Linked DNA regions of Homo sapiens. The protein of the gene in region 1 purifies or fractionates together with the protein of each later gene. This does not show direct contact. Each region holds a gene or a part of one and is shown on either strand. Other genes may lie near its edges.

Region 1 (3,633 bases):
CACCAGGCTGAGCCAGCAGAGCACAAGCCCCTCCCCTGGTGGTCCCGCCCAGCTGGAGCCGCCACTCCACCATCAAGACAGACAGGCTGATGCCTCTGCAGGGACTCCCGGATCCTGCCCTCGGGGATCATCCCAGAGACGGCCCCCACCCAGCGGCCATGGGGACAGGGAGGGAGAGTAAAGGGCCAGGCGTCTGCCTCCCCCCAGGCCTTCACCCTCGGTGGCCACCGTGGGAGGGAGGGACAGCAGGTGGGTGTGGGCCTCAGATGTCCCACCGGGATGCCATGCGCGCCCCCACACTGAGCTCTTTCCTTCCTGCTTCTCCTTCTTCCCCATCTCCTGCCCGAAGATCCTCCGTGTTGGGCTGAACTTTTGCCCTCTCTTGTCCCCATGTTATGGAAGGGCAGCGGCTGGTGTCCCAGGCCAGCCTGTCTGGAGCCTCCCTGCGCGTCTCACAGCTCCCTTCCCATGGTAGCGTGTTCCCATGGCGCGGTGACCTACAAATTACACAAGGGATGCATTTGCAAAGGACACTTTATTTCTTGTTAAGGGTGACAGCCTGCAAGGTAGCCATCCAGCAGCCTGGGAAGAGCAGCCTCTGGTTAACACCAGAGACAGACATTTAGGAGCAGGAGGGGTTTGGGCAGGAGCTTTATGCTGAAGAGGTTGGCTAAACATACATATTCAACAGGCTACAGGAGGAGCTATGAATATTCATGTAGGTGGTTGCAGTCCATGCTTATTGAACAAACATGTGTGGAACATATGATCCCAGCCGGGCATAGTGGCTGATGCCTGTAATCCCAGCACTTGGAGAGGCTGAGACAGGCGGATCACCTGAGGTCAGGAGTTCGAGACCAGTCTGGCCAACATGGTGAGACCCCATCTCTACTAAAACTACAAAATTAACCAGGTGTGGTGATGCATGCCTTTTACTCGGGAGGCTGAAGCAGAAGAATCGCTTAAACTCGGGAGGCGGAGGTTGCAGTGAGTCCAGATTGTGCCATTGCATTCCAGCCTGGACAAGAGGAGCAACACTCTGTCTCAAAAAAAAAAAAAAAAAAAAAAAAGATGATATTTGGAGGCAGAGAGATCCCAGAGGTGCGTGTGCATAGAGGAAAGGCCACAGAGGACACGGCTGGAAGAGACTCCCTGCCAGCCAGAAGGAGCGGCCTCAGAGGAAACAACCCCACCCACCCCTCGAAGTTGGACCTGCAGCTTCCAGATCTGTGAGAAAATAAATGCCTGCCATGTGGGCACCTGGCCTGGGACATCTTCTATGGAGGCCACAGCATGAAAGGGTCATTTTTATGGAGAATCTCATTCTCTAAAACTTACATCTGCTTTGAAAATGTCAAATCAAATTTAAAGTGTTTAGAAGAGCCTCTAAATTTCATATTTCATTTGCAAAGAAAGAATTGTAATTTGAGACATACACGGAGTCCGGATGGTGTTCACCATGTTGAGAGAGCAAAGAGATGGCAATTATAGAAGGAGAAATGTTCTCTTGCCCTATGTAAAGCCCATGGGCACTAGGAAGGGCTGGGAGCTGGGAGGTTCTATTGCTGAGTCGCTGCGTTTGGAGCAAGGAGTCCAAGACTTACAGCCATTTATCGCAGAAGCTATGGATAAAGCTGGTTTCAGGGTACAATGCACAGTCTCAGGAGTCAGGCTTGCAGAGAAGTCCATTTCGGAAACAATGTTGTGTGGCCTGACTGCTTTTCCTCCCTGGCTCCTGGCCTCTGTTTTAGCTGGGTAGGACATGAATGACCCAATTCATAGGATGAAATTTACAAAGGATGTTTCTCAAAACTTCGGGTTTTCAACTTACATATATTCACACCTGTTTAGGTTGAGTTTATTTATCGATTTATTTTCAGGCAGGGTCTCTATCTGTTGCCCAGACCCGAGTTCAGTGGCGCGATCTCTGTTCACTCCAGCCTCCACCTCTCGGGCTCAAGTAATCCTCCCACTTCAGCCTCCCAAGTAGCTTGGACTACAGATGCATGCCACCACATCTGGCTTTTTTTTTTTTTTTTTTTTTTTTTTTGTAGAGATGGGGCTTTGTCATGTGACCCAGCCTGGTCTGGAACTCCTGGGCTCACGCGATTCTCCCACCTTTGCCTCCCAAATTGCTGGGGGATTACAGGCGTGAGTCACCATGCCCAGCCTAGGATGAGTTTAGTAAGATTTGGTTATGCTGGGGAGATGGGAAAAGCCAGGTTAGGGGCACGCAGGCTGGAGGAACGGGGTCTGTGGGGGTGGATGGATAGCCATGGAGGCAGAAAGGAGCCTCTGCAGGAAGAGTCTGGAAGAGCGAGGAGGAAGCGGTGAGGCAGGGGAGCACTGTGGAATGGCCCTGAGGCCAGGAGGGGCTCAGGATGACCAGGCAGAAACAGAGCGGGTCCAGGGTGGAGGGGAGGCCCGTGCAGCATGAGCAGGAGGCTAGAGGAGACAGACCATGAGGCCCAGGGAGACCCCTCACTGGAGACTCTCCCGTAGCCTTCTTTTCAGAAGTCGAAAGTTGGTTTTTAATCCCTTCCAAGGCTTGAATGGCTCATTATCATTGTACACAAAGTTTTCCCAACAATATTTAAAATCTGAGAAAAAACAAGGAGAAAACAGTGAGGGCCCAGCAGGCCTCTCTCCTGGCCCTGGGCCCTCCCCTCCCAGCCCAGGTATCCAGGCTGCCAGTTGCAGTGGGCGCTGGCCCGGTCCCCACAGACACCCAGGGGACACTGACCCGCCCCACAGCATTGGAGAACCATCTGCCCCTCATGCTGTCCCTCCTGCACCCACTCTCCTCAGCCCCCCACGTCTCACCTTCATAGTCCATGATCTCCACAGCGACCCCTTCCTGACTCAGGCTGCGGAGCCCCTCCTGGTAACATGGATACTGGAAGTAGTAGAGGCGGGCGGTGAAGATGGTGAGATTCACGTTGCTGTGCCTGGCCAGGAACTCGGCCACCTCCCCTGCACAGTCTGGGCAAGGGCTCCAAGATGTGTACCAGGTGACCTGGTACTTTGTGTTAGGAGACAGTATGTCGTCGCAGAACCAAGAGAGGAAGCACCTTTCTGCATGACAATGGGTCTCAGAATCCACCTGGCGAAGGAGGAGGAGGAGGACAGGGGAGCTCAGACCAGGAGCAGGAGGAGTGCAGGGGTGGGGCGATGGGAGCAGAGGGCGGGCCTGGAGCCCCGGGCCGTTTCCTTATTTACTCATTTTTGAGACAGGGTCTCTCTCTGGTGCACAGGTTAGGGGGTGCAGTGGTGGGATCTGGGCTGACTGCAGCCTTGACCTCCCAGGCTCAAGGAATCTTCCCACCTCAGCCTCCTGATAAGCTGGGATGCAGGTGCATGCCGCCACACCTGCCTAATTTTTTAAATAATTTTTTTAGAGACGGGGTTTCACCATGTTGCCCAGGCTGATCTTGAACTCTTGGGCTCAAGCGATCCTCCTGCCTCACCCTCCCAAAGCTCTGGGACTATGAGCATAAACCACATGCACAGCCTTATTTTATTTCTTTACTTTTCATTTTTCTGGCTACATAGTAGGCCCCAGGGTGTTTTATTCATTGAGTTTCCCTTCTTCTATCCTTCTCCTTCTCTCTTTATTCTTTTATTTTTATTTTT
Region 2 (7,037 bases), on another chromosome or scaffold:
CCAGAGGATCATTTCAACTGACAAAGAAAAACGCACCTGAGACAATCCAACAGGCTTTCATGATTAAAAAAAAAAAAAAAAAATTCAGAACACTAGGAATAGAAGGGAACTGAGTCAACGTGATAACCCAGATCTAGTATGATACTTAATGGTGAAAGATTGAGAGCTTTCCCTCTAATTATCAGGAACAAAACAAGGATGCCTGCTGTCACCACCATTATTCAACATTGTACTTGAAGTCCTAGCCAGAGCAATTAGGCAAGAAAAAGGCATGCAAACTGGACAGGAAGAAGTAAAATGATCTACTCATAGATGGCATGATCCTATACATAGAAAATTTCAAAGAATGCACAAGAAAGCTAGTAGAGCTAATAAATGAATTCAGCAAAGCTGCAGGGTACAAGACAACACAAAAAAATCAGTTGTGTTTCTATACATTTGCAATGAACAACCTAAAAGAGAAATTAAGAAAACAATGCTATTTCCAAGAGCATCAAGAAGAATAAAGTACCTAGGAAAAAATTTAACCAAGGTAAAAGGCTGTACACTGAAAATTACAAAATACAGCTGAGAAATTAAAGACAAAAATAAAAGGAGAGACATCCATGCTTATGGACTGGAAGACCTAATAACCAGATGGCAATGGCACCCAAATTAATCTACAGATCAGTGCAGTCCCTATCAAAATTCCACAGCTTTTTCACAGAAATGGAAAAACAGATCATCAAATTCATATGGAATTGCAAGAGGCCCCAGATAACCAAAGCACACTGTAAATGAACAGAGTTACACTGAGGCTTCCTGATTTCGCAACTTACTACAAAGCTATAGTAATCAAAACAGTGTTGTACTGGCGTAAGAACAGACATGTAGACCAACAGCATAGAATTGAGAGGCTGGAAATTAACCCATACATTTATGGCCAGTTGATTTTTGAAAAGGATGCCATGACCATCCAAGCCCCATTGAAAAAATTGTCTCTTCAACAAATAATGCTGGGACAAATGGATATCCACATGCATAAGAATGATATTGAACACCTACCTGATATATGCAAATATTAACTCACAACGTATGTAAGAGCAGTAACTATAAATCTCTTACAAGAAAACACAGGGGTCGATCTTTATGACCTTGGATTTGACAATGGAATCTTAGATACGACACCAAAAGCAAAAAGAACAAAAGAAAAATAGGTAACTTGGACTTTGTCAAAATTCAAAACTTTTGGGTATCAAAGGACTTCATCAAGAAAGTAAAAAGGCAACCTACAAAATGGGAGAAACCATGTGGAAAGCATGTATCTGATAGGTAACTAATATCCAGAATATACAAGGAGCTCTTACAAATCATCAACAAAAAGGCAACATAATTAAAAAATAGGCAAATACTTGAACAGACATGTCCTCAAAAAAGATACACAAATGACCAAGAAGCCCATGAAAAGACACTCATCATCATGTCATTGGAGAAATGCTATCAAAACCACAATGAGGTATCACTTGACACCCATCATAATGACTATAATCAAAACATCAGAAAATAACCAAGTGTTGGTAAAGATTTGGAATCCTCGTTCATTGCTGGTGGCAATGTAAAATGGTACAGTAACTGCAGAAAACAGTTTGGTGGTTTCTCCAAAAATTACATATAGAATATACATATGACCTAGCAATTTCAATCCTAGGTATATACCCAAAAGAACAGAAAACAGGGTATGTAAATAAATATATGTATAGACATTATTAACAACACTCTTCACAACAGCCACAAGGTGGAAACTAACTAAATGTCTGCCAATGGATAAATGGATAGAGAAAATGTATAAACATGTAATGGAATATTATTCAGCTATAAATATTAATGAAATACTGATACATGCTAAAATGCAGATGAATCTTGAAAACATTATACTAAGCAAAAGACAGGCAGAAAAGGCCACATAGTGTATAATTTCTTTTATACTAAATATCCTAAATAGGTAAATCCACAGAGACACAAGACAGATTGGTGGTTGCCACGAGCAGGGACAGGGGGGTAACAATGAGGAGTTTAATGCGTATATACAGGGTTTCCCTTGGGGGTGACAAAAACATTTTGGAAATAGAGGTGGTAGTTGCACAACATTGTAAATGTACTAAATGGTCACTGAATTGTACCCCCTCTTTAAAAGCTGTGTGATCCTATTTTGCTTAAACAAATAAACAAAACAAATACATACGTACACACATACACAGGAACAAAGTCTGGGAGGACAATACTAAAATATTAATGAGTTACCAGCCTGGCCAACAGGGTGAAGGGTGAAACCCCATCTCTACTAAAAATACAAAAATCAGCCAGGCATGGTGGTGGGCACCTGTAATCCCAGCTACTCGCGAGGCTGAGGCATGAGAATCACTTGAACCCAGGAGGTGGAGGTTGCAGTGAGCTGAGATTGCACCACTGCACTCCAGCCTAGGCGGCAGAGAGAGACTCTGTCTCAAAAAACAAAAACAAACAAACAAAAAAATTGGCAGCACATTATAACATAATTATCAGCCTTGCCAAATATCTTAGACTTGTTAAAGCCAACACGGAAGAAGAGAACTAAAGATGTCAACCATCTTTTTCTCCAGAGAATCTGGGACTCCCAGATTGAACTGTATGGATTAATAGGAATCTTCTAGGGATAAAACCACATTTCCATCTCTGTTTTTGTTTTATTCAGACAGAGCCTTACCTACAGGTGCCTGTAGGCATTTGATAAAGCCTGCCTGTCCCTGGAGCACTCTGCCATCACGATTCCTTTTTATGGACAGAACCCTCCTCACTGCACTGCTGCCTGCCAGTGTCAACACCCAAATGTGAGATACAAAAACACATTCTCAAGGACTTCAGCATCCAATTTGAAAAAACATTTCCTTGGGACTTCTGAAGACAAAATTGGAAAAATTAATGAAAATATTTCTAGCACATCTGACCAAAAACTACGGGCTTTTTGGTACACCACAACTAGAGGCGATAGGGAGGAAAGCATACAGGCCCTCCACTCAGACTCTGATCCCAATCTCGATTCTCAGGCTCACCAAGGAAAAGACCTTAGAGGCATCATGTAGCTATTCTGGGCTTCAGCAGCTATCAACGTCATTATGAGGACTGAATAAGGTAGTGTCGGTAACACACCTGGAATGGCATCTGGCACATGGCTGCCATTATCATTAGTTAACAGTACTGATAAAAAACAGTGATCCGGGAGGATCACTTACATGGACCAATTCCTCATCATCTCGAGCAGAGTAAATAGCAAATCTCCTTTCCAATGTAGTCTGCAGGTTATCTTGTTCACTGGCTGAAAGTTCTGCATTAACTGTAAATGTTCCAATGAACCTGGGGAGAAAGCAGGCATTCCTTGTGTCAGAGGTCAGGGCAAAGGGGAATTTTCATTTCCAGCCAAGAAAATAAAAAGAGGGAGTGAATCGTGAGACCCGCCTGCCTCTGTCCTACTTTCCCCAGCCCGTCTAGCTAACTCCTATCATCACTGCAGACCCAGCTCAGACTTTACCTCCTTGGGGAGCCTTCCCAGACCTCCCAGCTGAGAAAAGCGCCCCTGCTATGTGAGCCTGCAGTCCCCAGAACACCCCTTCCAGGGCACTCCTCATGCCATCCTGTAATTACCTGGTATGTATTTGTCTCCCCACCAGTCTGGCAGCTCTACCAGGGCAAGATCATACCTGGCATTTCTCTATCTTCAATGCCATGCCCACCACCTGATACATAGTTACCGCCTCAGGGAAGGTCTGTGGAAGTGACCTGAACCCAGCCTCTGAGAGAAACACAAATCCTACACTCCCCAGCTCTGCAGGACAAGCGGAGGGCCTTACCACTTCACCAGGTTTGAGAGGTAGTAGGTGTCCACATCTCGAGGCAGCACTCTGGTAAAGCGGGCTGGGATGATGGACAGGCCAATAGCATGCAGATCTGGCTGGCTGCAGATGTTATTTCGATAGAAGCCATTTGCTAGCAGGCAGAGAAGGTGAACCTGTGAAGAGGAAAGGAGGAAGGGGCAGCATGGAAGGAAGGCCGGACACCAGGAGGAATTTTTGCTGCCAAAGTCAAGACATGCTGTGGACAAGAAATATGTGTTGCCATTTCTACATATAAGAAAGTAAAAACACTAGCATTGGCCACTTCCCAAGCTTGTCTTTGACCCTCTCTTTTTCTCTCTGTATACTCATTCCTTCAAAGGAATCATCAAACCTCAAAGCTTCAAAATACAAATTGCTTTGTTTTCAAAATACAAACTGTTTTTGTTTTGGTCTTGTCTTTCAGAGATACATACTGAAAGATTTCTGGATGAAATGCTGCCATGTCTGGGGTTTGCTCCACGAGATCAGAAGAAAAGGCAAGTGGAGTGGAGCTGGAGAGACTGCTGGAAGCCTGTGGAAGCCGGCGGGATGCACCCCACTGGGCTCACTGGGCTGCTCTCGCCACCTCTCTGGGTGTTTGAGCCCAACCTTCTCTGTCACAGGCTCCACATCTTTGCCCTTCCTCTGACCCCAAAACCCACCCTTCATCCACCTACTGAAATGATTATATGACCTCTTCACCTCTTTTCACATACTGCTTTGTGTCATTTTCCCTTCAACATTGGCTTCCTCCCCCCCGACTAACAGCCTCCCTATTTTAATCAATAGTGCTGCCTCTCTCTCCTCACTCAGGCCTCAAACCTGAGAGTCATCTTCCCTTTCTTTCACCTCCAGCACCCAACAAGAGGTGAAAGGCACACAGCTGTCTCGTTTCGTGCCCCAGGCCTGGGTGAGGGAGGCGACCCCTCTCTAACCTCGTCACCATCCTTGCACCTCTAGATTTCTGCAGTAGCTGCACACAAAGCAACTCACCCATCCCATCACTATCCTCTCAGGCAGCCCACCATCCATCAAAGGGAAACCAAAGCCCACCCTCCCTTCACCCCCACCCCCCAACACCTACATACTCCACACACGCAGGTGAGCTGGGCACCTCGCCGTCCCCTCCACAACTTGGCTAGAGTCTTCAACTTTTTCTCCTAGACCTGGCTCTAATCCTTTCCCCTACATAAAGCCTTCCCCAGCTCCACAGAGCCACGCTGATCTCTTTCACTGTTCCAGGCATAGCCTTGAGTTTCTCTGTTTGGAAGTCCTTGTTCCATCTAGAGATCAGATACTCCTCAATTGTAGGAAATAAGCTTTATCCAAGTCTCTATCCCCACCATGCCAAGCACCTTGCTAGGTGTGTGCAAGTGTTCAATAACTGTCAGCTAAAGTCAAAAGCCAGTGCCTGCAGCTGGGATTAGAATTAATGACATTAAATGGCTGAAAGGAGAGATGGAAGGCAAGTGCTCTTTATTTAGCCTCTGCTGCATGCCAGGCATTGTGCTGCAAGTTACCTTACCTATAATACACAACCACCCTCCAAGACAGACACTATTACTACCCCCACCTCCCAGATGAGGATGCAAAGGCTCAGAGAGAGTAAGAAACTTGCCATGGCCACAGAGCAGCAAAGCCAGAAATAAAGCCTCGGTGAGCACAAGCTCTTTGCACCGACAAGGAAAAGTCCTTCCCCATCATTCCTTGCCCTTACCTTGTGTGTGTCCTCATGGACCCCTTTATTGAAACGTTTCATCGCCCTCCGAAGATATGTCTCAAACTCCAGTTTTATCTTTTCACTGCAACAAATAGTGAAAAATCTGGGAATGAAGGGGGGAACTGAAACCAGACTCCACTCCCCCAGGCAATTCCTTCTCCTCGGATGACAGTGAATCACTCTCCCTGTTTCCCTACACAAGGCTGTGCTACTCAAGTCCGTCTGCAAGCCAGCTATTTCCTGCAGGCTCTTTGGCTCCTTCTCACCAGCAAACCTCGGCCTGGGACATTCTGTACCCAGACAACCCTCCTCTCAACCAGCAGCAGATCACACCTCACCTACATGCCTCAAAGCTCACTTCTTCCAGGAAGTCTTCTCTGGCTGTCCAACTCTTCCGACTACTGACTCTCTCCTTAGCAACCATTACCTTTATTAATGTTAAATTAACACACCATCATTTATGTGACACTGTTCTAGTGTAAAATCTCTTTTTCAGTCTGTATCCCATTAATCTTCAAGACAACTTGACACTTCTTGAATGATTTGTATTATCTCCCTCTTCTGTGCCTAGTAATGTGCCCATCGCACATTGGAATTCCCAAGCCATCAGAGGCTGCAGAGGTACTCCGGGATGCTGGGAAGGATAGGGGCTCCCTACCACGGCGGGCACTGCCTCAAGTCCTGCAGCATGACATGGTGAGGAAAATGTGAATGCCAAGTCAATGAGAAGGATTAGGTCTCAGCTCTTCCATTACTGGCTGAGTGACTCTTGAAACGTTACTTAGCGTCTGAACGTTACTTAGCTCCTCATTCACAACACTGTTCTAAGGATTAGGTAAGATAACGGATGACCTGCTCAATCCTTGGCACACAGGAGTTCCCTCTCCTCATCCCTCACCAGCCCCAGCCAGGACACGAAGGTGTCTCATTCAAGTCTCTAAAGGTAAATCAGGTTCCTGACCCAAGGTTCTCGACCACTTTGATACTCAGTCCTGGTCCCCTACAAGTTTCTCCAAAGTCCTCCTAAGCAGCAGCTGTTGCCTACTGCATGTGACAGGAGCCTAGAAGCAAGGGCCTAAGCTTACCTTCTTTCTCTTGTCTTCGCCTGCTCTGGCGTTTCAATCTCTATCTCCACTGGCTTCACAGGCAGAAGAGATCGAGAGAAGGCTGTACTTTCTCTCACGTCACCCAGCACAGGCTCACTAAGTTCTATCAACAAGCATTTTTAAAAATCAGTAATAGTAATAACAATAATAATAGCTACTGTACTGAACAGAATCAAGGTTCTGCTGGGAAGGAGGAAGTGAGGCATGAATGTGAGGGAGACAGCCCACAGAGACCCCTAGACATGCCTTGCCCTGAGTCCTACCATGTGCCGGGCAGTGTGCTGAGTGTTATATATTCGTGTGTCTCATTTAACCCACACAACC

What was found. The genes of interacting proteins can lie anywhere in the genome.
Region 2: the proteins of APOBEC3C (region 1) and XPC purify together in Homo sapiens (co-immunoprecipitation; 3 studies listed by BioGRID and IntAct, with this or other methods). This does not show direct contact.

Annotation. Positions count from the first base shown.
Region 1 is NC_000022.11:39,017,236-39,020,868, reverse strand, and holds the end of APOBEC3C (DNA dC->dU-editing enzyme APOBEC-3C), read right to left. Parts: intron 3,104-3,633; coding exon 2,824-3,103; intron 2,601-2,823; coding exon 2,482-2,600; 3' UTR 517-2,481; downstream 1-516.
Region 2 is NC_000003.12:14,161,565-14,168,601, forward strand, and holds part of XPC (DNA repair protein complementing XP-C cells), read right to left. Parts: intron 6,817-7,037; coding exon 6,693-6,816; intron 5,690-6,692; coding exon 5,605-5,689; intron 4,022-5,604; coding exon 3,864-4,021; intron 3,370-3,863; coding exon 3,249-3,369; intron 1-3,248. UniProt on the Homo sapiens protein: Involved in global genome nucleotide excision repair (GG-NER) by acting as damage sensing and DNA-binding factor component of the XPC complex. Has only a low DNA repair activity by itself which is stimulated by RAD23B and RAD23A.